Linked DNA regions of Homo sapiens. The protein of the gene in region 1 purifies or fractionates together with the protein of each later gene. This does not show direct contact. Each region holds a gene or a part of one and is shown on either strand. Other genes may lie near its edges.

Region 1 (8,942 bases):
GCTTGTGGACCCACGAAGTTATGAAGAACTCATACTTTCTATTTTTCCAGTCTACCGTACTAAGCACGTTAACTTTTATCTGTAGGTTTTTTTTTTTTTTAATCATGGAGTCTCACTCCATCGCCCAGGCTGGAGTGCAGTGGCGCCACCTCAGCTCTCTGCAACCTCCACCTCCCAAGTTTAAGCAATTCTCTTGCCTCAGCCTCCCAAGTGGCTGGGATTACTGATGTGCAGCACGTTGCCCAGCTAAGTTTTGTATTTTTAGTAGAGACAGGCTTTCACCATGTTGGCCAGGCTGGTCTCAAATTCCTGCCCTCAGGCAATCCGCCCACCTCAGCCTCCCAAAGCGCTGGGCGTTAGCCACTGTGCCCGGCCTGCACTATTTATTTTAATTTCTTTTAGGTTTACAGGAAAAGTGGCTAATAATTGATCTACAGCGCCTGGCCTTATCCTTAGGCTTTTGGCTGCTATAGCTCCAACACATCCTCTGGTGGTGGTGGTAGAGGGGTTGAAAAGAATGGCTGGGCGTGGTGTCTCATGCCTGTAATCCCAGCGCTTTGGGAGGCGGAGGTGGGCGGATCACCTGAGGTCAGGAGTTCAAGACCAGCCTAGTCAACATGGTGAAACACTGTCTCTACTAAATGACAGAGCAACAAGAGCAAAACTCCATCCCAAAAAAAAAAAAAAAAGAAGAGATCACAGTTCTTCTTGTACTCTCTCCTGTTTACCAGGAAGAAAATCTTTAATAGAAATTATTACCAGCTGGGAGACCAGGCAGGAGGATCACTTGAGGCCAGGAGTTCAAAACCAGCCTGAGAAACATAGCAATACCCCATCTCTAAAAGAAAGAAACGATGAGAATTATTACACCCAAAGCAGACTTTTACTTACATCTTATTGACCAGAACTGGGTCAATAAGTGCTGACTGCCATTACTAGCCAAAGGGAATGGCATTGTGATGCTGGTCCTACATTAATTATGATTTTCTCCTGGGACTAGGAGCTGGGCCAAGTTTCTTAAATTTGTTGCCACCTCTCTCTTCTGCCCCTTCTCTCTCCACCGCAAAATAAGGACTTGTAACTGTGGAAAAAGTGGGATAGCATCCTACAGATGCATCATAATAGCATCTGTTAAAATTTTCAAAGCAATAATCCAGGAAGATAAAGTACATTTTTCTTTCCAGGAGACTTATTGCCTTACACAAGAATCTTATTCTCATTTGCTCCATACTTTAGCTTCCAAAGCCAACCAAATTTAAACAGTGGAAGCAAAAGATGAATTCAGCATTTATGTATTTTATATAATTCCATTTTAACAAAACTTAACAGTTTAAATAAGATTTAAGTAAAATTTCAGCGTTCCCAACTCCTAAATATCACTCACCCTCACATGGCAAAATATCTATTTTCACAAATCAGTGTAGACCTACTCAGTAATCGGTAATTGTGTGTTCTGTTTTCTCTGCTGCAGCTCAGTAGAAATTACACTTATCAATTGCTACTATTTAAGTTTTTCCCTCATAGCTACTTGTATTGGTAATCCTGTTAGATTTTGTTTTCATGTGAAGTACACGCTATAATGAATACTTTTAGATACTATGAGAAAAAATTAAGTGAAAAATTTAAGCAAAGTTAAAACAAAAATTATTGCTGCTTTTAAATAGACTTTAAATTGGGGTCAAAAGTGGCAGCCTGAAGGTATATTTTATTTTTCCAACAAAATGTTTATAAGTTTTTCAATTTTGAATGCCTTTAAGTGGTCTTGTATTCTCCAGTTTAACACAGGCCCCTCTAACCCTCTTATAGCTGACATCCAAGCACTCGTGGTAACTCCTTATCCCAGTAGGCACTTGAATTTGCCAATCTCTGCTTTGTCTGGATAAACCAAGATTAATAATAAATGAATAATGTTTTCCTATTTGCAGAACATTTTTGACTGGCTTCCAAAATGATCTCTAAAATGAATAATGAACTTTTCTCCAAGACAACTACATTTTTGGCGTGCTGGTTTAAAAGTTTTTGGCTGACATTTTGTCAGCCAAATAGGGTTTGGCTCCCCTATTTTGTCTTCTAAATAGGGGAGAAGGTGGTATCACGTCTTTGTTTGATTTATTTGACGAAGTTGTGTTCCCAGCCATATTGGGTAATTTTGCATTATGAAATTGTGCATACTTTAAACAAGTTGAGTATTCTTTAGTTGAAATTATTTGCTTGAGACCAGAAGTGTTTTGGATTTCAATTAAAAAAAAATTTGGAATATCTGCATTATACTTAACAACGGAACATTCCAAATCAGAAAAATCCCAAATCCAAAATGTCCTTTGAGCAGTTCCCCTGAGTAACATGTCAGTGCTCAAAATGTTTCAGATTTTGGAGCATTGGAAACATCAGATTTTCAAATTTGGGATGCTCTACCTGTATTTATATATTTTCAATTGTATATTTTAAAATATATTTCAAATTTAAAAGACTAAAATGCTTAAAGAAAATAATTAACAGCTTATATATGTTATTTATATAACATATTAATATAAAATTAATTTTATATAAACTTAATATATATTACATATATTGATATGAGTTTTTATATATAATATATATACTTTTATATATAGTATATCTTTCCAGATATTTTACTATATATATACTTTTATATATTTATATATATATATATATATATATCTTTCCAGAGTTCCTTTTACAAAATCTCAGAATGGTTTATAAGTATTTTACACATAATTTATAAAATATTATTTTCTATATAGTATAAAAAATTCACACGGTCTCACAGAATGATAGAGGGAAATTCACACTCACTATCTAGGGTATTAAATCTCCAAGACTACATTCTTCTCTTAATAAAATTGACCTTTGCTAATGTTAAAATTTTTTTATTTAATACTTTAGGAAATAGCTGTGCAATGTTTTAAATGAGTGAAAGAATGTGGGAACTTGGAAAGAAATGTTAAGAAGTCCCATGTTTTTATTCATGGGAACATTGCCTCATAAATCATTTTTGTACTATCATGTTTACTAATTGTGTGGATTTATTAGAGTTCTTTTTGGCCAAAATAATGGTGAGCTACCTGTGTTTATATTAACTACTTTCCTGTCAGCCTGTAGTAGTTTGCTATTATTTTACTGTGATTATTATTTTTTCTCTAATTCCCATCTTCTGTACTACCAGTTCTAGCCTAGTCTGCTTGTATTTCCTCCTCCTTTATTTGTCTAAAAAGATAAACAAGCTTTAATTTGCAAAGGACATGGAGAGTTATGGATACATGATGACCTCTTAAGAACTTCTCCAATGCCAACATTCCTGCAACAAGTCTTAAAATCAGTAGTGTCATATTATTACTATTTATTCTAATATGTGTCCTTAAAAGTTAAAATGATAGAACTAGTTGAAATAGCAAATAACATTTGAAATATTTTTCTGAGATATAATGCAAGAGATAATAAGTATAAAGAGTAACAACACCCCCTGAGTTAGTTGTTTACAACCCTGACTGAACATTGAAATTGCCTGGGGAAGATTTTAAAATTACTGACGCCTAGATCTATTGCCTAGAAATTCTGATATAATTGGTCTGGAGTGCAGCATGGACATGAGATGTTTTTAAAACTTCCCAGATAATTCTAAACTACAACTAATGTTGAGAACCACTGGTCTCAGACTATCTCCAGATTATGTTATTAACCTTGACTACCCATTATAATCAATGGATGTATTTTAGAAACATAGCTTCCCAGACTCCAGGTCCAGAAATTCAAATTCTATTTTTCTGGGATGGAACCAGGCATTGTGTTTCTTATGTGCCCTAATTTTAACGTGAAGTTAAGGTAAGAATTATTGCTCAAGAAACCAAGAGGTTTAACATCGCAATATGGGAAGGTATGATATATTATCATTGTGTTTTTTTTAATTGTTGTTTTATTGATGACAAACCATAACCTTGGCCTGCTAGAAGAGTTCAATGGCACAAATTTAGTTTTTTTTGTTTTAGACGGAGTCTCGCTCTGTCTCCCAGGCTGGAGTGCAGTGGCACAATCTGGGCTCACTGCAAGCTCCACCTCCCAGGTTCACGCCATTCTCCTGCCTCAGCCTCCCGAGTAGCTGGGACTACAGGTGCCCATCACCACGCCCAGCTAATTTTTTTGTATTTTTAGTAGACACGGGGTTTCACCGTGTTAGCCAGGATGGTCTCGAACTCCTGACCTTGTGATCCGCCTGCCTCGGCCTCCCAAAGTGCTGGGATTACAGGTGTGAGCCACAGCACCCGGCCCACAAATTTAGTTTTTTAAAGTAAGTAACTTTGTCTTAAAAATGATTTGTAGTAATAGTCATTAAAAGATAAACTGAGGCACATTAAAATATTAAAGCATTTATTTGACCATTCAGTGATTCATGAATCTGGTAGCTCCTGATAAAGGAGCCAAGGAGAAGGCTTTTATAGGGTGAATTTGGAAGCAAAGGAAAGATATTTGATTGGTTAAAGTGGAGTACTAGACTTATTTGGGTCATCCCAGTGGAAAGTCCCCAGTTAGAAGTTAGCTGGCAGTTTCTGATTGATTAAGCTTAAATTTCCTTTTTATCATTTACACTGATTTGGGTTTCCTTTCCTTAGGTAGGAACTCATGGAGCTGAAGCTACCTCAGCCTACTGGCCTTCTAATTATTTCAACACAGAAATAGTACTTTACGGCACACTGGAGTTGCAATTCTATTCTGCAATTGGGTGGTTTCAGATTTGTTCTTCCTATAAATTTTGGTCAAATTAGTCATTGCATTTCTTTCTATAAGTCTGAGATTCAGATATTTGGTTGCTCTGAGAAAGTCTCTGTTGAGATAGCATTGCCATACTGGTCAGATTGAAAGTGACTTTGTATCCTTTCTATTAATGTTCTGATATGAAAGAGTGATGACTCGGATATAGTGTTAATGCATTAAAAAAGCACAGCCTGACAAATCGCTTCCTATAATACACAGAAAAATGTCTAGTCTTGAATTTATAACACAGGGAAAGGTAAAAAATTTAATTATGCTTCCTAATGTTGAACATGCACGTGACAAAGTAAATACTAAAAATCCATTCAGCTGGGCGTGGACAGGGAGAGGGAACGGTGCACATCAGAGGGTGCAGGCTACTCCAACGTTTCCGTTTCCTCAGTCTCGCGGGAAGCTCCGTTGTGGGCGCCCCGGCTGGTGGCTGAGCTCAGGCCTTCAGGCAGAGGGGAGGCGAGGGCGGGGCGGTCACGTGAGAGCACTGCCGCGGTGGGTTGTGGGGGTGCTGCGGCGCCGTTTGCTTTGCCAAACCGACAAAAGAGAGATGATGGCCAACGACGCCAAGCCCGACGTGAAGACCGTGCAGGTGCTGCGGGACACAGCCAACCGCCTGCGGATCCATTCCATCAGGGCCACGTGTGCCTCTGGTTCTGGCCAGCTCACGTCGTGCTGCAGTGCAGCGGAGGTCGTGTCTGTCCTCTTCTTCCACACGATGAAGTATAAACAGACAGACCCAGAACACCCGGACAACGACCGGTTCATCCTCTCCAGGGGACATGCTGCTCCTATCCTCTATGCTGCTTGGGTGGAGGTGGGTGACATCAGTGAATCTGACTTGCTGAACCTGAGGAAACTTCACAGCGACTTGGAGAGACACCCTACCCCCCGATTGCCGTTTGTTGACGTGGCAACAGGGTCCCTAGGTCAGGGATTAGGTACTGCATGTGGAATGGCTTATACTGGCAAGTACCTTGACAAGGCCAGCTACCGGGTGTTCTGCCTTATGGGAGATGGCGAATCCTCAGAAGGCTCTGTGTGGGAGGCTTTTGCTTTTGCCTCCCACTACAACTTGGACAATCTCGTGGCGGTCTTCGACGTGAACCGCTTGGGACAAAGTGGCCCTGCACCCCTTGAGCATGGCGCAGACATCTACCAGAATTGCTGTGAAGCCTTTGGATGGAATACTTACTTAGTGGATGGCCATGATGTGGAGGCCTTGTGCCAAGCATTTTGGCAAGCAAGTCAAGTGAAGAACAAGCCTACTGCTATAGTTGCCAAGACCTTCAAAGGTCGGGGTATTCCAAATATTGAGGATGCAGAAAATTGGCATGGAAAGCCAGTGCCAAAAGAAAGAGCAGATGCAATTGTCAAATTAATTGAGAGTCAGATACAGACCAATGAGAATCTCATACCAAAATCGCCTGTGGAAGACTCACCTCAAATAAGCATCACAGATATAAAAATGACCTCCCCACCTGCTTACAAAGTTGGTGACAAGATAGCTACTCAGAAAACATATGGTTTGGCTCTGGCTAAACTGGGCCGTGCAAATGAAAGAGTTATTGTTCTGAGTGGTGACACGATGAACTCCACCTTTTCTGAGATATTCAGGAAAGAACACCCTGAGCGTTTCATAGAGTGTATTATTGCTGAACAAAACATGGTAAGTGTGGCACTAGGCTGTGCTACACGTGGTCGAACCATTGCTTTTGCTGGTGCTTTTGCTGCCTTTTTTACTAGAGCATTCGATCAGCTCCGAATGGGAGCCATTTCTCAAGCCAATATCAACCTTATTGGTTCCCACTGTGGGGTATCCACTGGAGAAGATGGAGTCTCCCAGATGGCCCTGGAGGATCTAGCCATGTTCCGAAGCATTCCCAATTGTACTGTTTTCTATCCAAGTGATGCCATCTCGACAGAGCATGCTATTTATCTAGCCGCCAATACCAAGGGAATGTGCTTCATTCGAACCAGCCAACCAGAAACTGCAGTTATTTATACCCCACAAGAAAATTTTGAGATTGGCCAGGCCAAGGTGGTCCGCCACGGTGTCAATGATAAAGTCACAGTAATTGGAGCTGGAGTTACTCTCCATGAAGCCTTAGAAGCTGCTGACCATCTTTCTCAACAAGGTATTTCTGTCCGTGTCATCGACCCATTTACCATTAAACCCCTGGATGCCGCCACCATCATCTCCAGTGCAAAAGCCACAGGCGGCCGAGTTATCACAGTGGAGGATCACTACAGGGAAGGTGGCATTGGAGAAGCTGTTTGTGCAGCTGTCTCCAGGGAGCCTGATATCCTTGTTCATCAACTGGCAGTGTCAGGAGTGCCTCAACGTGGGAAAACTAGTGAATTGCTGGATATGTTTGGAATCAGTACCAGACACATTATAGCAGCCGTAACACTTACTTTAATGAAGTAAACTAGGCTTATTTCTAAAAAGTCAAGTCTATTGGCTTTGGCCCAAAAGCACTGGTATCTTTGTATTAAATTCATGTTTATTGTCACAAAACCATTATTTATACCTATACAGTTGTACTGTTTCTTTTAAAGCAAAGCCATTTAACATCTTTCTTCATTCCTAATTTGGAAATTAAAGTTTACCTTTCTGTTAATCTATGTATAAATGTTACTCTGAGTTATTAATGTGGATTTTAAAATTGTAAGCAATAGAATAGGAAATAAAACAACTACCTAATACAAATATTTCTGATAAGACTACAAATATCTGACTGAGCTGGGGATTAAAGTAGAGGTAACTGTATCTTAAATGAGTATGATTTCCTTGTAAGTTAAAAAAATTGAAATTTAATTGTAGACTTCAATAGTCCAAGTTTTGAAGGATGTTTGAGCTTTTGTATAATGCCATTTATACCTGCAGTTTTACAGATAATGTTTGACTGCAGTTGCCTTGGAAATTCCTCCAAAGTTTGCCTTCATCTCTCCTCTACAGTTTGGAGGTGATGGTGCAGCAGTGGAACATCTCTTGATGCACCACACTACTTGTGTTCTGTGAAGTGATGAAAGTATAACTGGTTCTAGTTTGCACACTACACACATAGTTTTGTGAAGCTTCAGAAATGTTTTTTCTTTTCCTTGTGGCCAAACCAGTTTGTTAATCTGATTATATTCATCTGCTAATGATACTAAAGTTAATGTAATAAAGCATTTAAAAATCAGATACTTCAGTCTGTGCTGTGTATGTGGGATTTGATTTCTTCCTGATGAAATCCTAAATAAGGAGAACTTGTGTCTAAATAAGAAACAGAGAGAGTCATGACCCCCAGAAGCAAACCTGGAAAAAGGTTGAAGCTGGAGATAAGTTACTAGAGAAGATTGTATGGACTAAAAAGCCATCCCTTAAGCAGACTCCTGACTTTTGGCTGTCAGTGTGTAAATATATGCTTGGAGTACAAGAAAGTACCAGTCAGGCAAATCATAGATGGACCCAAGGTTCCAAACTAAATTAAATTACTCTGTGTCTATGTCAGGTAATTATTTCCTTACTTTTATTACCCTCATTAAGTTCTTTGGAGGCATAACCAATTTGTCTCAGCAATCATTGTCTTAGGAGGTATAATAGAGCCAAAAAATATTAATACTAACCTGGGAATTAGAGAAACCAGGCTCTCCTCATCTGCTACTACCCGTTTTCTCTAAGCTAATTTCCTCTTTTGTAAAATGATTACGAAAATTGCTCTGTTTTTTCATAAGATTTAAAAATTACTTTGTAGAAATAAAAAGTTGACATAAAATCATTGCAGAAGTTTAGAAAATGCAAATAAGTAAAATATGTTTACCCCCCGTTTCACACACACAAAAATCATTTAATTGTATTCACAGCATGTTTTCTGTACATGCTGTGAAAGTGGGCATGTAAAATGGTCTGTTTCCAACCAAACATGCATAAGCACACCTTTAATAATGACAGTAGATCAGATTCTTTATGTCTAATGGAATCTCAGACACCACCAGAAATTATATTTTTTGTAGCTGGAGGGGAAGCCCTTAGGAATCTCTCTTGTAAAGACTCTGTTCCACAAGTTATCAACCAGAGGCTATGAGCTCCAGAGAGAAGAAATAGCAGGTGAGTCTTATGTCCACAATTCTTCAAGTACGAATCATATCCAGTTTTGCTATATTGAATGTTCTCT
Region 2 (7,116 bases), on another chromosome or scaffold:
TTTATACCTAATACCTCCCCATCACTGACAATAGAAAAATGAGAAACACTGTTCAAACAGACCTCAAAAGGCAAGTTAAACAAAAAGATCATAAGGCTCAACTGCAAAAGAGTAAGTAGGATCCTACCTTTGGTAAACTGACACCAGAGAAACCAAAAGTTTGTTTTGCAAATAAAATTTTACTAGGCCAAATTTCAGAGTCCTTTTGTTTTAATTATCAAGCCCATTTTACCTCCACATTTTGAAACTTTTACATTATATGGTTTTCTAAAGAAATGGGCAGTGCCATACAAAGAAGCGTTACACAGGATTAATTTACCTCTGGCCCTAAGTTCATCTTCTTCATCCGCTTCTATATCCAGATCATCAAATACGGCAACCAGAGGAGTTTTTAATGTTGTATTACTGGGTATTTTAAAATCCTTGATAACAAAAAAAGATAGCACACTTGAACAAATCCTTAAATTTAAAAAAAGTTTTAATTGTAACTTATATAACATCTATACCATAAAAATTATTGAGATGTTATTTTAATAGTGGAACCATAAGAATTTGTGGTATTAGCAATTAAACTTACATTTATATTTTGAAGGAAATAAAACCCTAGGGTAATAGCATGTCAGTCCCGCTTTATTAACATATATATTTGAGTTAAAAAGGCACTTTTTACAACCGAATTTTCTGAATTAAAACTCCACAATAACTGCAATTATGTGACAGTAAACCATAGCTAAAAAGATCTCCGAAGGATACTATCCTACACTGTCTTCTCAGATCTCATTTTCAACAGGGAAAAAGGCAAAAGTTTTTCATCATAACACATTATCTATAGACTTCTACAATCTCTCCTGATACTTATTACTGTATTTACTTTGCACACTTTTTTTTTTCCGAAACAGAGTCTCACTCTGTTGCCAGGCTGGAGTGCAGTGGCACGATCTCAGCTCACTGCAACCTCCACCTCCTGGGTTCAAACGCTTCTCCTGCCTCAGACTCCCAAGCAGCTGGGACTATAGGTGCATGCCACAACGCCCAGCTAATTTTTGTATTTTTAGTAGAGAAGGGGTTTCACCATGTTGGCCTGAATGGTCTTGATCTCTTGACCTCATGATCCGCCCACCTCGGCCTCCCAAAATGCTGGGATTACAGGTGTGAGACACCACACCCGGCCTGCACACTTTTACGTATATTAAATAGTTCAAGCACTTACTTTAAATAATAATATTCTAATATTAATTTCCAACAATTGGCTTGACTCAGAGGTTGCAACTGATAACCTGTTAGCCAAATGCTAGTAAACACTTTAAAAAAAAAAACGAAAAAAACTTTGAGCTAAAGTTTAAAAAATTCGGAGACGACAAATAAAAATCAAAATTTGAAAGTTCTCTTGTAATATCAGAAGATTGAACTACAATGAACCAACATTCAGCAACACCCAAACAGAGAAGGAAACTGAATAGCAGAAAGAATTTAGCATGTACTCTGGTTCTCCAAGTTATTATAGCCTTACTTTACCTCTAAAATGCAGGCATATGCACTAATTCCCAACGATTTTACTTTCCTGACATCTGTAGAGACTGGACATTTGAGTGGACTTCATACTTTCATTTTGTTTTCATAAAGTAATTGCTTTTAAAAAGATACATGCTCACTACAAAATATCTAAATACACAGAAGTACAGAGGCTTAAATCACCTGAAATTTTACTATCTAGAAAAAATGTCTATTTGAAAAATCTTATTAATATTTGCATGGCCTCCAATATTTTACTATTTTGCAAATATCCTGTGGTAAACTGGATTTCAACAGCATATAAGTTTTGGACCACTAAAGAAATCTATCTGAACCACTGTTTTCTTCTGAATAATTTCTTCAACAATGGGATCATAAGGAAGTTGAATGAAATTAAGTTTATGCCTTTTATGTGTTAACATATTTACAAGTCATCAGAAAATTATTAACAAGCCATCAGGAAAGTATCAGTATACTTATTCTATCAGATTCAACATTTATTAAAGTTTGTAATCTTGATCTTTTCTGGCAGAAATGGCAACAGATAGCTTATTTAACTTACTTCTCTAGTAAGTGATGCTGATAGTTTTGCCTTTATATATTATTAGTTCCTTGTGTGATTAAACTTTAGTCATAACATTACACTTTTTTCTTTTTTAAAACTTTTTCTACTTATTACCATTCAGCTATCTTCAGTGGGACAAACTTTTGTTAATAATGTAAGAGGATTCAACGAAACGGCCATTTTCATACTATCTGGACTTTTGAAAAAGACTAAACATGTTTGTGAATGATAAATAGGTATAAGTGGGAGAAACAGTAATGGTTATAATTAACTAGAGCCATTCAACTGAGAAACTGAAAATGCAAGAAATTATTCTTTGACTAAAATCTAGCCATCTTTCATGTGTAAGGCAAGCAAATTTATTATCACAAATATCTACCATAAGAATGTGATACAAACATACAACAGAAAAACCTGACAGTTGGTATCAATGAACAAGTACAGAAATATGTGATTTCTATAACACACATGAGGAAAAAAACTTGCTGTTAATCAAATCTGATCAAATTCTGATCAACTGATGATCTGATTAAGAAGCCAACTATTCTAAGTTAATTTCCTTTTTCCTATTTTTCTATGACTTTAAGAATTCTGAAAATTAAGTGATAAATTCTGCAAGCAAACCCATGTGTTTTCTAAGTCTCTTGATCCAAAAGGAGAAAAATCTTTTTTTCTTTTTTTTTTTTAGATGGAGTCTCACTCTGTCACCTAGGCTGGAGTGCAGTGGCAAGGTCTCGGCTCACTGCCAGCTCTGCCTCCCAGGTTCACGCCATTCTCCTGCCTCAGCCTCCAAAGTAGCTGGGAATACAGGTGCCCGCCACCACACCCGGCTAATGTTTTGTATTTTTAGTAGAGACGGGGTGTCACCATGTTAGCCAGGATGGTCTCGATCTCCTGACCTCGTGATCCAGCCGCCTTGGCCTCCCAAAGCACTGGGATTACAGGCGTGAGCCACCGCACCCAGCCCAAAGGGAGAAAAATCTTTAACCCAAAGACTGATGCTAAGCTTTATTATATTCTACTTTGTTGTCAATAATAAGTAAAATGTTCACAGTAATACAAAGGGGATGGAGGGGAGGAGAGAACGGGGAAGAGAGCTGAATTAGTAACTGCCATATGCTATCAAAGAAGGCCCACCACCTTTCTTGAAATCAGACTTACCAGAAAAAGATAAAGACTACTTGAGTCATTTAAAAAAAAAAACTTCAAAAATTCATTAGGGCCTTTTCCATCTTCAAACAGGTGGGCTTCAATCTCACCCTAATCTAGCACTCTAAGCAACACAAGAAAGGGGAGTCTGAGTGCTTTATTTGAGAGAAAAAAGGCACATTACAGAAATTTTCAAAGTACAGGTTAGGCAGTATTCCTTTTGAAAATTTCAGCTACATGACAAATTCTGAAATTATTACCGGAATGTTTTACAGCTTAACTAAGTGGATCTAGATTATTACCTGGACACTGTTTTCTTGTATTTGGTGAGGTTGTCTTACATGAGGCAATGAAGGCTGAGTTCCTAATTTCCTATCCAAAAATACTTCTTTGCTGCAAGCATAACACCATACTCGAAGAGTGGTAAGGTTCACAGTTAGATAATGCTTTGTCTCCTATATAATTTCACAGTAGAGGGAAAAGAGGAACCAAAATTACATATACTTGAAAAGACTTCTTCAAAAGATAACAGAAGATAAACTGCTTGCCTTTGATGAGTAACAATATACTCAAAAGCTAATTTAGAACATGAAAAAAATTCTTTAGATAAACTTCTAAGGTATAATAAACAGTAACAACATCTAAGCCTACTCTAGAAATTACTCTGCCATTCTCCCCTCACTATTCATTATACAAAAAGATAAACGCAAGAGTGTAAGACCTTGCTTTGCAGTCTACAAATAAATATAACACAAGAAAATAATTAACAATAGCAAGTAACTATTCTAAGAAATCAGAATGGCAAAAGAACACAAATGACATGAGTCAAGGCATAAAACAGCTCTAGCAATACAGAATATATAATCTTGGAAAGATAAAAGTCTAGCCTTTCACAACCAGAGTTCTGCTACAGAATTAAGCCCTACAAAAAATGATCTGAGTGACTAATTTATCAATTCTCCCAATGGTGGTACACAGCAAATACCATCTTAGATGCACAGAAAGAGGCAAATGATATACAATGATGACTCAGAGCTTGGGTATTCAGGCTTAATTAATTCTATAGAGGAATCCTGGTTGAGAACAGTTGATGCTGTAGAGGTATCAATGTGCATCTTAAAACAAAGTCATTCGAGAAACTTTCCATTTAGAATGGGAGCTCTACATAACACTATAGAAGAGGCATGCCAGAGTTACATGGGAAGTACCAAACAACCAGAGCAAAGCAGAAAGGTGAGTCCAGTTAGGACTATGTGCAGGAAAAGGCAATATGACATGAGCTGAGACTTAAAGAAGTTAGCCAGGCCATGTCATAAACCTAAGCACCCACTCTCTCTTGGGCTTCAACCTCCTAATATGCCAGCTATCACCTTCAAATATCTGGATATACACTTTTTTTTTTTTTTTTGAGATGGAGTTTCGCTCTTGTTGCCCAGGCTGGAGTGCAATGGCACGATCTCGGCTCACTGCAACCTCCGCCTCCCAGGTTCAAACAATTCTCCTGCCTCAGCCTCCCGAGTAGCTGGGATTACAGGTGCCCACCACCACACCCAGCTAATTTTTTTGTACTTTTAATAGAGACAGGGTTTCGCCATGTTGGCCAGGCTGGTCTCGAACTCCTGACCTCAGGTGATCCACCTGCCTTGGCCTTCCAAAGTGCTGGGATTCAGGCGTGAGCCACCATGCCTGGCCGGATGTACACTTTTGAAATCAGTGCTTTCTTAATCACAACCTCATTCTAATGTTCATCCTCCTAGCAATTCCCTTCCCCATCCTTCACAGAGAATGTAAGTGAAGTTTTAACTTAGAGTGCAAATTTGAATTACAACTTGAATTAATAATGTTATACTGGCTTTCCCTTTCCTTCAGGCACTTTTTTTAACAAGTCTTCCATTAAATTTTTTATATACATACCTGAGAATGTATGGTGCTGTGATCTACTTGTGATTCACCACAGCCAACATATGAACATCTATTCTATAAATAATTATATAGGAAGAAAAATAAGGTACTTTATAATATACATGTAAATTTATAACAGCATTACAATTACATTTACAATTAAGTTTGGATTACCTGTTTTACATTCAATGAGTAAATGACTTTCCAGTCATTAAATTTAACCAAATGTTTCCAGGCACAAAATAAAACCAGGATATATTTCTAAGCTAAAAGCTATGTCATTTCTAATAAAAGGCAAGCATAAAATAGCTGAGTGATTTACTAAAAACTACAAAAGCACTACAGATTAAGATCTTTCCAAAGTTTAATTTTTGTTATTAATAATGACCTTTTAAAAGCAAGTTTAATTTACAAAAATCACTTTAAGTATCAAAAATTTTCTGGTTATGATTATTCAGATCCAAATTTATTATTATTATAGCAATCTTTTCAGGAAAAAACATATACACACCTCCAGACATGCCCAAAGATTTGGTCCTTGGACTTTACAATCCTGACAAGTACCCTATAAAAAGAAATTAAAAAGACAACATTGGTTATATTGACACAAACACATACAATTCACTAATGCACTAATGACATCATACATATTTTTAAAATACTGCTCATAGAGTATTACAGTAATTTATGAAAATTACACATTCAAGAGAAAAGTGAATAGTTTTTCAAGGAAGAAAAAACCTGTTTCTTACAAGGGATTTTTGTATCAAATCTTCTTTTGTTATTTCACCAACTGAATCCAAATGTGGACAATGATTTCGAAAAGCTGACATTTTGTTAGGAATTTTTTCCTGTTTCCCAAGACTTTCAAAATGAGGTAACACCTATAAGAAAAGTAACACACACAAAAAAATTAATAAATGCTTACAATGCCTGCAAAGATTCCAAAAAATAAAAAAATTAAAATGTTAACATATTAAAAATGATTAAAAGATAACATAAGAATGATATAAGTTTGCCCTGTAAAAAGAGTGTATTCTCAAACATAGATGAGTTTTCAGAATTGAAGTTAATCTGAACACTGGAAATTTCTCTACTACATAAACATTTTATTAAAATTGACATCTATAAACAAATGTAAGTTTGTTTCTCCATGACTTTTGCTGCTTTTCCCCTCTCATTTCACTTTTTATAGATAAATAAAAGGGGGGAATATTCAAGTTATTCAACTGTGAAGCACTTTTATCCTTTTAAAAAAAAAATTAATCCTTAGGCTGGACTAGGAGTTGAAAAAAAAAAACTTCAAGTAGAAAGCTTCATTTTTCTACTAATAGGACCCCCTACTGATGGCATAAATTAAATCATCTGGTATCCTGGCCTTATACCAGGATAAGCACTTTATATCAGGGTTTCTCGATCCCGGCACTATTGACACTTAGGGCCAGATAATTCTTCGCTGTGAGGGATTGTCCTGTGCACTGCAGGTTATTTGGCAACATTCCCACTTCTATCCACAAGAGACAGACAGACCATCCCTGCCACCACTCTGAACTCTGATGACCAGTGTCTCTAGACTGTTTTAAATTATACCCTCTGGGGGACAAAATCTCTCCAGGTTTGAGAACCCCATTTTCATGATCTTTACAACCCCTGAAATAGGCACCATTATTAGCTTCATTTGCACATAAGGCTAAGAGATGCAAACTTTACTGATCCACAGTGTTTGGTTCAAGTAAAGCGAGTGATTTCCAAAGGTCTCAAGTCTAATTTGGTATTCCTAGATCTTTTGGTTGTACCTTTTTAATAACAGGGCTTTTCATGCTCTTAATTCAACTTTGAGGTTTGAGAACACTTTCCCAAAAAAAGTTTAGAACTTGCTAGGATAGAATGAAACAGTTTAAAAGTTTGAACTTCAGAAACACTGTAAATTTAATTTCCTTTGTGGTTTATAAGTTATTCAATAAACCATGCAGGTCTATGTAATAGTT
Region 3 (7,116 bases), on another chromosome or scaffold:
CAGCCTCCCAATGTACCGGGATTACAGACGTAAGCCACTGTGCCTGGCTCACATTATTTCTTGGTACTAAGTCATCAAAATCTGGTGTGTATTTTCTACTTACAGCACATCTCAATTTGGATCAGCCACATTCCAAGTACTCAGTAGCCACATATGGCCTGTTGCTGCCATATTGGATAGTACAGCTCTGTAGTAAGATCCAGCCTACCCCACCCCCACGCGTCTGGCCTGGCCAATAATGCCCTGCCTCCGCTTCTTGTCTCCCCTGCATTTCAGACATCAACGAATGTGAGCACAGGAACCACACGTGCAACCTGCAGCAGACGTGCTACAATTTACAAGGGGGCTTCAAATGCATTGACCCCATCCGCTGTGAGGAGCCTTATCTGAGGATCAGTGATAAGTAAGTCACGGCGTCCCCCTGGGGAATAGAAACCTGATGAGGGCCTGGCTCAGGAGGTTGGAGGTGTGGTGTGAAAGAGAGTGCACCAGCCAGGAAGTGAGGGGACCTGGCCTACTACCTACGTCATGTGCTCATGCGTGTGTGTGTGTGTGTGTGTGTGTGTGTGTGTGTAGAATAGAACAGAGTAGAATAGATAGAACAGACTGGAATAGAAAATATCAGAGTACATTGCACATAGCAAGAGTCAATATTGTTTTTTGAAACTTATCTTTTAGTTTTGTGTGCTACTGGTTTGCAGTGCAAAGTGTGTTACTGTAGGTTGTCAAAAAGTTTGCAAAACATTCCATTCCAAGTTATAGGGTCTGAAACACATCCCTATATACAAGAAAGAACTATTTTTCAAAATGTTTGACCACAACACACAGTAAGAAACACATGCAAGGCTGGGCACGGTGGCTCATGACTGTAATCGCAGCACTTTGGGAGGCTGAGGTGGGTGGATTGCCTGAGCTCAAGAGTTTGAGAGCAGCCTGGCCAACATGGTGAAACCCCATCTCTACTAAAAATACCAAAAAAATTAGCTGGGCCTGGTGGCACGGGCCTGTAGTCCCAGCTACTCAGGAGGCTGAGGCATGAGAATCGCTTGAACCTGGGAGGAGGAGGGTACAATGAGCTGAGATCGTGCCACTGCAGTCCAGTCTGGGTGACAGAGTGAGACTCTGTCTCAAAACACACACACACACACACACACACACACACACACACGCACGCACACTCCCACAGAGTTCTCTATCACTCCGCTACTCATGCCAGAGCTATGCAAAGATTCTCTAGAAAGCTAACCAAGCCGAGAGTTGAGTCAGGGTTCTAGAATCTCCTCTTCCCTCTAATGACTTTGTTCTGGATACATGGGGTCTTTCAGAGGTTGGCTTCTAAATGTAACACTCATAGGACTCACCTGGTGATCTCGTTAAAGTGTGATTCAGTGGGTTTGGGGTGGGGCCCAAGATTCCGCCTTTCTGGCAAGCTCCCAGGTGAAATGAATGCTTCCAATCTCCCTGGACTGCTCCGTGAATATTGAGGTGCTGGAGAGTTGAGTATTGAGGTGCTGGACAGTTGAGTATTGAGGTGCTGGAGAGTTCTCTCGTTGGTGCTAATCAAGTTTCTGACGTCATCTTGGTCAACATTTTACTAAATCACCAGACGGCAAATATTAGAGTTGAGGAGAGAATTAAAGTGAAGACAACTTCCAAAAGGTGAATGCAGTAGGACAGTGGCTTTCTGTTCCTGGCATAGTAGGAGTTCCTTTTCCTTCTCTTTTATCCCTTTTTTAAACCATCTCAGTTCCTCCTTGGCCTCCTATATTCCAAATGTTCACACATCGACTTCCCTTGAGCAACACCAAACCCCGCATGGGAGACGAAAGGATGAATCAGACACACCCATCCTGCCCTCTCGGAATACAGCCTCTAAGAGAGGAATTCATGGCTTACCAGTGGTACCCACTTTGATAACAAATTGGCAAAAGAGAGGATAATGCCGGGACAGGCGGATCCTTTAGGGACATCTTCACTTGTTGCTAAGAGCTGTGCTACTAAGCAACCCTTTAGAACAGGGCTCTTTGACCCCCGACGTAAGGCCTGTTTGTGGCAGAGCAGAGCTCCAGGCTGCTCTTCCCAGCTTCTATTCCTGGTTCTCTCTGGGTTTTTCCAGGCCACCCCGTCTGTGGCTGGGGAGCTGACCCATTTCAGCTTGCAGCACTGAGCTGGAGTTACTGGTGGAGTCTCTGGCATGACGCTGACAATGCTCCGTGACTCCCTCACTCCAGGCTCCAGTCCAGTCAGACTCCGGCAGCCCCTTCCAGCTCCTTGTCCAGTTCAGGTGTCCTGTGCTCCTGCCAGTCTGAACAGGACTTGCTCATGCCTTTACCCGTGCCCAGGAATGGCCAGCCTCCCTTCTTGTGTGCACATACTTCCGGCCATATGGAAGGCATTCCTTTCATTTCCACATAGCCAGTCCTGCCCCATCTTTCAGATTTCAGCTCAGATGCCACCTCTCCCAGCTGTTTGTGGTCCTCTTCAGCTGGGAGCCATCACTCCCTCCTCCAAACTTCTTTTAGGAAACAATGATTTTCTATGCTGCACATGATACTTTATTGTGGCCATTTTGGCACTAGAGACATTTTGACTTGGCTATTTTGATGCAGCCTTAAAAAAATGAAACTTGCTCTGCCACCCAGGCTGGAGCGCAGTGGTGCAATCACAGCTCATTGAAGCCTCAACCTTTTGGGCTCAAACAATCGTCCTGCCTCAGCCTTTTAAGTAGCTAGGACTATGGGTGTGTGCCAGTGCTCCTGGCATATATATGTATTTGGTAAAGCCAGAGGTCTTGAACTCCTGGACTCAAGTCATCCTCCTGCCTCAGCCTTTCAAAGTGCTGGGATTATAGGCATGAGACACCATACTCTGCTCAGAATGAATGGAAATTTATAAAAAGGAAGAGTAGGCTGGATGGTTTAGATGGAGGAGTCCAAAGGCCTCTCTGAAAAATGACACTTGGGCTGGAATGGGAAAATGAGTTGACTTTAACTAAATAGAGAGTGGAAGATCAGAAGGAACAGCATGTGCAAAGGCGAGAAGGCAAGAGTGCATTGAAGGCACTGGAGATGGTTGGATGTGGACTCTCTTTTGGAAGTAGAACCAACAGGTTTTGTGGATAGATTGGAAGTTAGTGGCAGAAACACAGCAAGGTTGACTCCTAGCGTTGGCCACCACCGCGCGTCTCAACAGACATCTTCATCCTATTGTGAACCCTGGCCCCTAGGTGGAGTCTCAGGGCAGGGTCAGAGACAGAGGAAGGGGGTGTTAGGGGTGAATCAAGGGGTGTCTATAACAGGCATTCTTTGGTAGTAAAAGTCAGTGATTTTATATTAGGGCACTCTGTTAATAGTTGCTTTGTATTAGAGATATTTGTGTCTGTGGTTTATTTCTCCTATTAGAAAGTAAACTATCTGAGGTCAGGATCTTATTATTCATTGAATTTCCAAAATGTCCAATGTCACATCTTGTACATAGTTCTAACTCTTGCTTATCAATTATCGAATGACAAGATTTGATTATATTCGATTCAGTAACATTCCATGCAGACTGGGCTGAGCACAATAGAGAATGTACAAGGATCCCCAAGACCTGTTAATCCAGTTTCTTACTTTAAAAATTTCTTTCTTTCTTCCTTTTTTTTTGTTTTGTTTTTTTGAGACAGGGTCTTGCTCTGCCGCCCAGGCTGGAGTGGCATATTTGGCCTACGTGGCAAATGTAAAGTATCTTGGAGAATGTTCTAATGTTCTGAAAACCAGAGATCTAAGGTTTGTATTCTATTTAGTAGCCAGAACATCTGGTTGGTGAGAAAAGTCCATTCTCTAGGAAACAGAGCTCGCCTACATGCTGGAGAGATTTTAGACTCAAGCCAGGAGCAGAGACATTCTACAGTTATGGCATTTGGATGCTAAAAATGGGGTGGCCTCATTTTCAGTGTTTTAAGAGAGGAAGTAGGCACAGCCAGCACCTGGAATGGATTTCTTGAGTTCTCACGTGATTTCCCTTTCCACAGCCGCTGTATGTGTCCTGCTGAGAACCCTGGCTGCAGAGACCAGCCCTTTACCATCTTGTACCGGGACATGGACGTGGTGTCAGGACGCTCCGTTCCCGCTGACATCTTCCAAATGCAAGCCACGACCCGCTACCCTGGGGCCTATTACATTTTCCAGATCAAATCTGGGAATGAGGGCAGAGAATTTTACATGCGGGTAAGAGGGAGTGGGGAGTGGGGACGCCATCTGTAACAGTGGCCTTGTGCTGTCTCTCCTAGGAACGTGCTGTATGCAAGCAGGTAAGAGTGGGGCTGGGGGACAGGTAGGCAGAGAGAAGAGTGGAGGGTGTGGTTCAAGGTCCTGGTTTCCACCACTTTCTGTGTAGTCTTGCAAAAGATGCTTCTCCTCCTGAGCCTCAGGATCCTCATCTGTGAAATGGGAAGTTAGGCCAAGATGCAATCTTAGGTCTCTTTTCTCCTAATATTCTGTTGGAGAGGCATTCACGTCTCCACTTTTCAACCAACCCATGTGACAAGTATTTCTTAAGTACCTCCTATGCAGGCCAGGCACGGGGGCTGATGCCTGTAATCCCAGCACTTTGAGAGGCCAAGGTGGACAGATTGTCTGAGCTCAGGAGCTCAAGACCAGCTTGGGCAACATGGCAAAACTCTGTCTCTACAAAAAAAAAAGTTAGCCGGTCATGGTGGCAGGCACCTGTAGTCTCAGCTACCTGGGGCAGTGTGGCGGGGAGGTGGTGTGAGATGGGAGGATTGCTTGAGCCCAGGAGGTCGAAGTTGCAGTGAGCTGAGATCACACCACTGTACTCCAATCTGGGCAACAGAGCGAGACCCCATCTCTGAAAAACAATAAAAACTTGGTGACTTAAGGCAAAGGAAATTTATTCTCTCATAGTTCTGGAAGCCAGGAGTCTGAAATCAGTTTCACTGAGCTGAAATCCAGGTGTCAGCAGGGCTGTGCTCCCTCTGGAGGCTCTAGAGGAGAATCCGTTCCATATCTCTTCCAGCTTCCGGGGGCCGCCAGCACTTCTTGACTGTGGCTGCATCACTCCAATATCTGCCTCTGTGGTCACGCTGCCTCCTCTTCCTCCTCTGTGTGTATCAAATCTCCCTTTGTCTCCTTCTTATATTAACACCTGCGAGTAGATTTAGGGCCCATTCAAACAATCCAGATAATCTCTCTGTCCAGATTCTTAATCACATCTGCAAAAACCCTTTTCCTTATAACGGAACGGGTTCCAAGGATTTAGGACTTGCATCTTTTTGGGGGCTACTACCCAGCATACTGCACCCAGGAATCTGCATTTCTAACAGATGCTGCTGTGATCTTCCAGGGTCACTGTGGGGAGCCATATTGAAAAGGTCCATGGGCGTTTATATGCTTTCATTAGAGACTGGGCCCTATGAAGTCATGGGCCACAAGGCAGGAAGACAGAAATCTTCCCGATAAGGCTGGCTTTCCGAGGGTCCATGCTGTCTGAAGCTGCGGGACCCTCCCCGGGAAACCACTCAGTCATTCTAATGTGAGCTCTGGAGCCATGTCTTCTACAGTTTAACAATTTCACAATTGTGTGATGTGACCTAACACCTCTGGACCTCTAGATGAGTGTTTACTTTAGGATTAGATGAGATTATCCACTTAGTGCCCTATCTGGAATACAGTTTTTATCAAAGAAGTGGAGTTTGGTGGTGGGGGTGAAACAGTCAATGACTTTTTCTTTTTCTCACGCTGTTGGATCAAACCTGTGAGCACCTGGGTTACATCTCACGTCAATTCCCTAGGATTCACAGGCATGTTCCATTTCTATTGGATTGTCTCATTCTCTCACGTCAAAAGTCTGTACTAGTTTAAATGGAAACTTCAACCTCTCTGTCTCTTACCCACTGTGAAGTTTCTCCCTGTCTCCTAGTTCAGAGCAGGCAAGGGGTGTGGTTGGCCTCTGCCCTGTCCTCTTGTCACCCTCCCGGTAATGGTAGTGCTGGCCCTGGCTCCTCCAGGGCTGGCAGGGGAGGAGCAGGTGGTAGAAAGGGTAAGGCTGGAAGAGTGAGGCTCCTCCCCGATTGTAGCCATTGTAACCAGGCATTGGTATTCCCTCAGGAGCAGAGCCCCCAAAGCTGTTGCTCTCACAGGGTGCTTTTGTGGGTCTTTTGGAGATTTGCCTGAGGACTTCACACTGACCAGTCCCTGATATGGGCAGTAGGGCCTGTGGTTGGTCACCTGCTACTCCAAACCTCTCAGCCCCTAATTCTGGGGCTATGTCTCATACAGATGTGCCGTGGTGGTAGTGAGGTGGAGGGTATCACTGCATCCTGGCAGCAGACCTTACACAAGGGCCTTTCAGGATGTCAACATCAGCTCCTTGCATTCCCCGTTCCTCTCTATGGTGTGGGGCAGCTCAGGGCTCACATCTCCAGACTTCTCCTGGAGACAGTCTGGTACCACTTTCTGCATCCTTGAACTTCAGGGGCCTGCATCTCTAAACAGTTTTTCTTTTTTTGAAAACCCCTCTTGATTGAGATGGAGGCTAGTAAGTGTGTTTAATAAAATATATGTAGAGTTGGGCACAGGGGCTCATGCCTGTAATCCCAGCTACTCTGGAGGCTGAAGTGGGAGGATCCCTGGAGCCCGGGAGTTCAAGTCCAGCCTGGGCAACATAGTGAGACCCTGTCTCTACAAAAAAAGATTAAAAAATTAGCCAGGTGTGGTGGCATGACCTGTAACCACAGCCACTCTGGAGGCTGAGATGAGAAGATAACTTGAATCCAGGAGTTCAAGGCTGCAGTGAGCTATGATTGCACCACTGCACTCCAGCCTGGGTGGCAGAGCGAGACCCTGTCTCTAAAAACAAAAACAAACAAACAAAAAAGTATGTATGTAGGCTGGAGGGGGTGATGGAATGAGGGAAACATCTGGCTTTGGATCACAGCTTTGTAAGTCCTGTATAACCCCAATAACTCCACACACAGCATCAGCAGCAAGCCGTGTATAGTGCCTGTATGTGCCAGACACTATTCTAAGTGCTTTCTATACAGTAACCCTTTAATCTTCACAAGAATCCTATGATATAGGATGGTTTTATCGTCCAGATTTTACAGATGAGAGCACT

What was found.
Region 2: the proteins of TKTL2 (region 1) and USP33 purify together in Homo sapiens (co-immunoprecipitation; 3 studies listed by BioGRID and IntAct, with this or other methods). This does not show direct contact.
Region 3: the proteins of TKTL2 (region 1) and FBLN5 purify together in Homo sapiens (affinity purification with mass spectrometry; 2 studies listed by BioGRID and IntAct, with this or other methods). This does not show direct contact.

The regions. Positions count from the first base shown.
Region 1 is NC_000004.12:163,470,122-163,479,063, reverse strand, and holds TKTL2 (transketolase-like protein 2), read left to right. Parts: upstream 1-5,309; 5' UTR 5,310-5,329; coding exon 5,330-7,210; 3' UTR 7,211-7,969; downstream 7,970-8,942. UniProt on the Homo sapiens protein: Plays an essential role in total transketolase activity and cell proliferation in cancer cells; after transfection with anti-TKTL1 siRNA, total transketolase activity dramatically decreases and proliferation was significantly inhibited in cancer cells.
Region 2 is NC_000001.11:77,735,737-77,742,852, forward strand, and holds part of USP33 (ubiquitin carboxyl-terminal hydrolase 33), read right to left. Parts: intron 6,013-7,116; coding exon of another isoform or gene 5,962-6,012; coding exon 5,881-5,961; intron 5,694-5,880; coding exon 5,640-5,693; intron 5,204-5,639; coding exon 5,141-5,203; intron 3,682-5,140; coding exon 3,529-3,681; intron 423-3,528; coding exon 320-422; intron 1-319. UniProt on the Homo sapiens protein: Deubiquitinating enzyme involved in various processes such as centrosome duplication, cellular migration and beta-2 adrenergic receptor/ADRB2 recycling.
Region 3 is NC_000014.9:91,874,579-91,881,694, reverse strand, and holds part of FBLN5 (fibulin-5 isoform 1 precursor), read left to right. Parts: intron 1-276; coding exon 277-403; intron 404-4,012; coding exon 4,013-4,208; intron 4,209-7,116. UniProt on the Homo sapiens protein: Essential for elastic fiber formation, is involved in the assembly of continuous elastin (ELN) polymer and promotes the interaction of microfibrils and ELN. Stabilizes and organizes elastic fibers in the skin, lung and vasculature.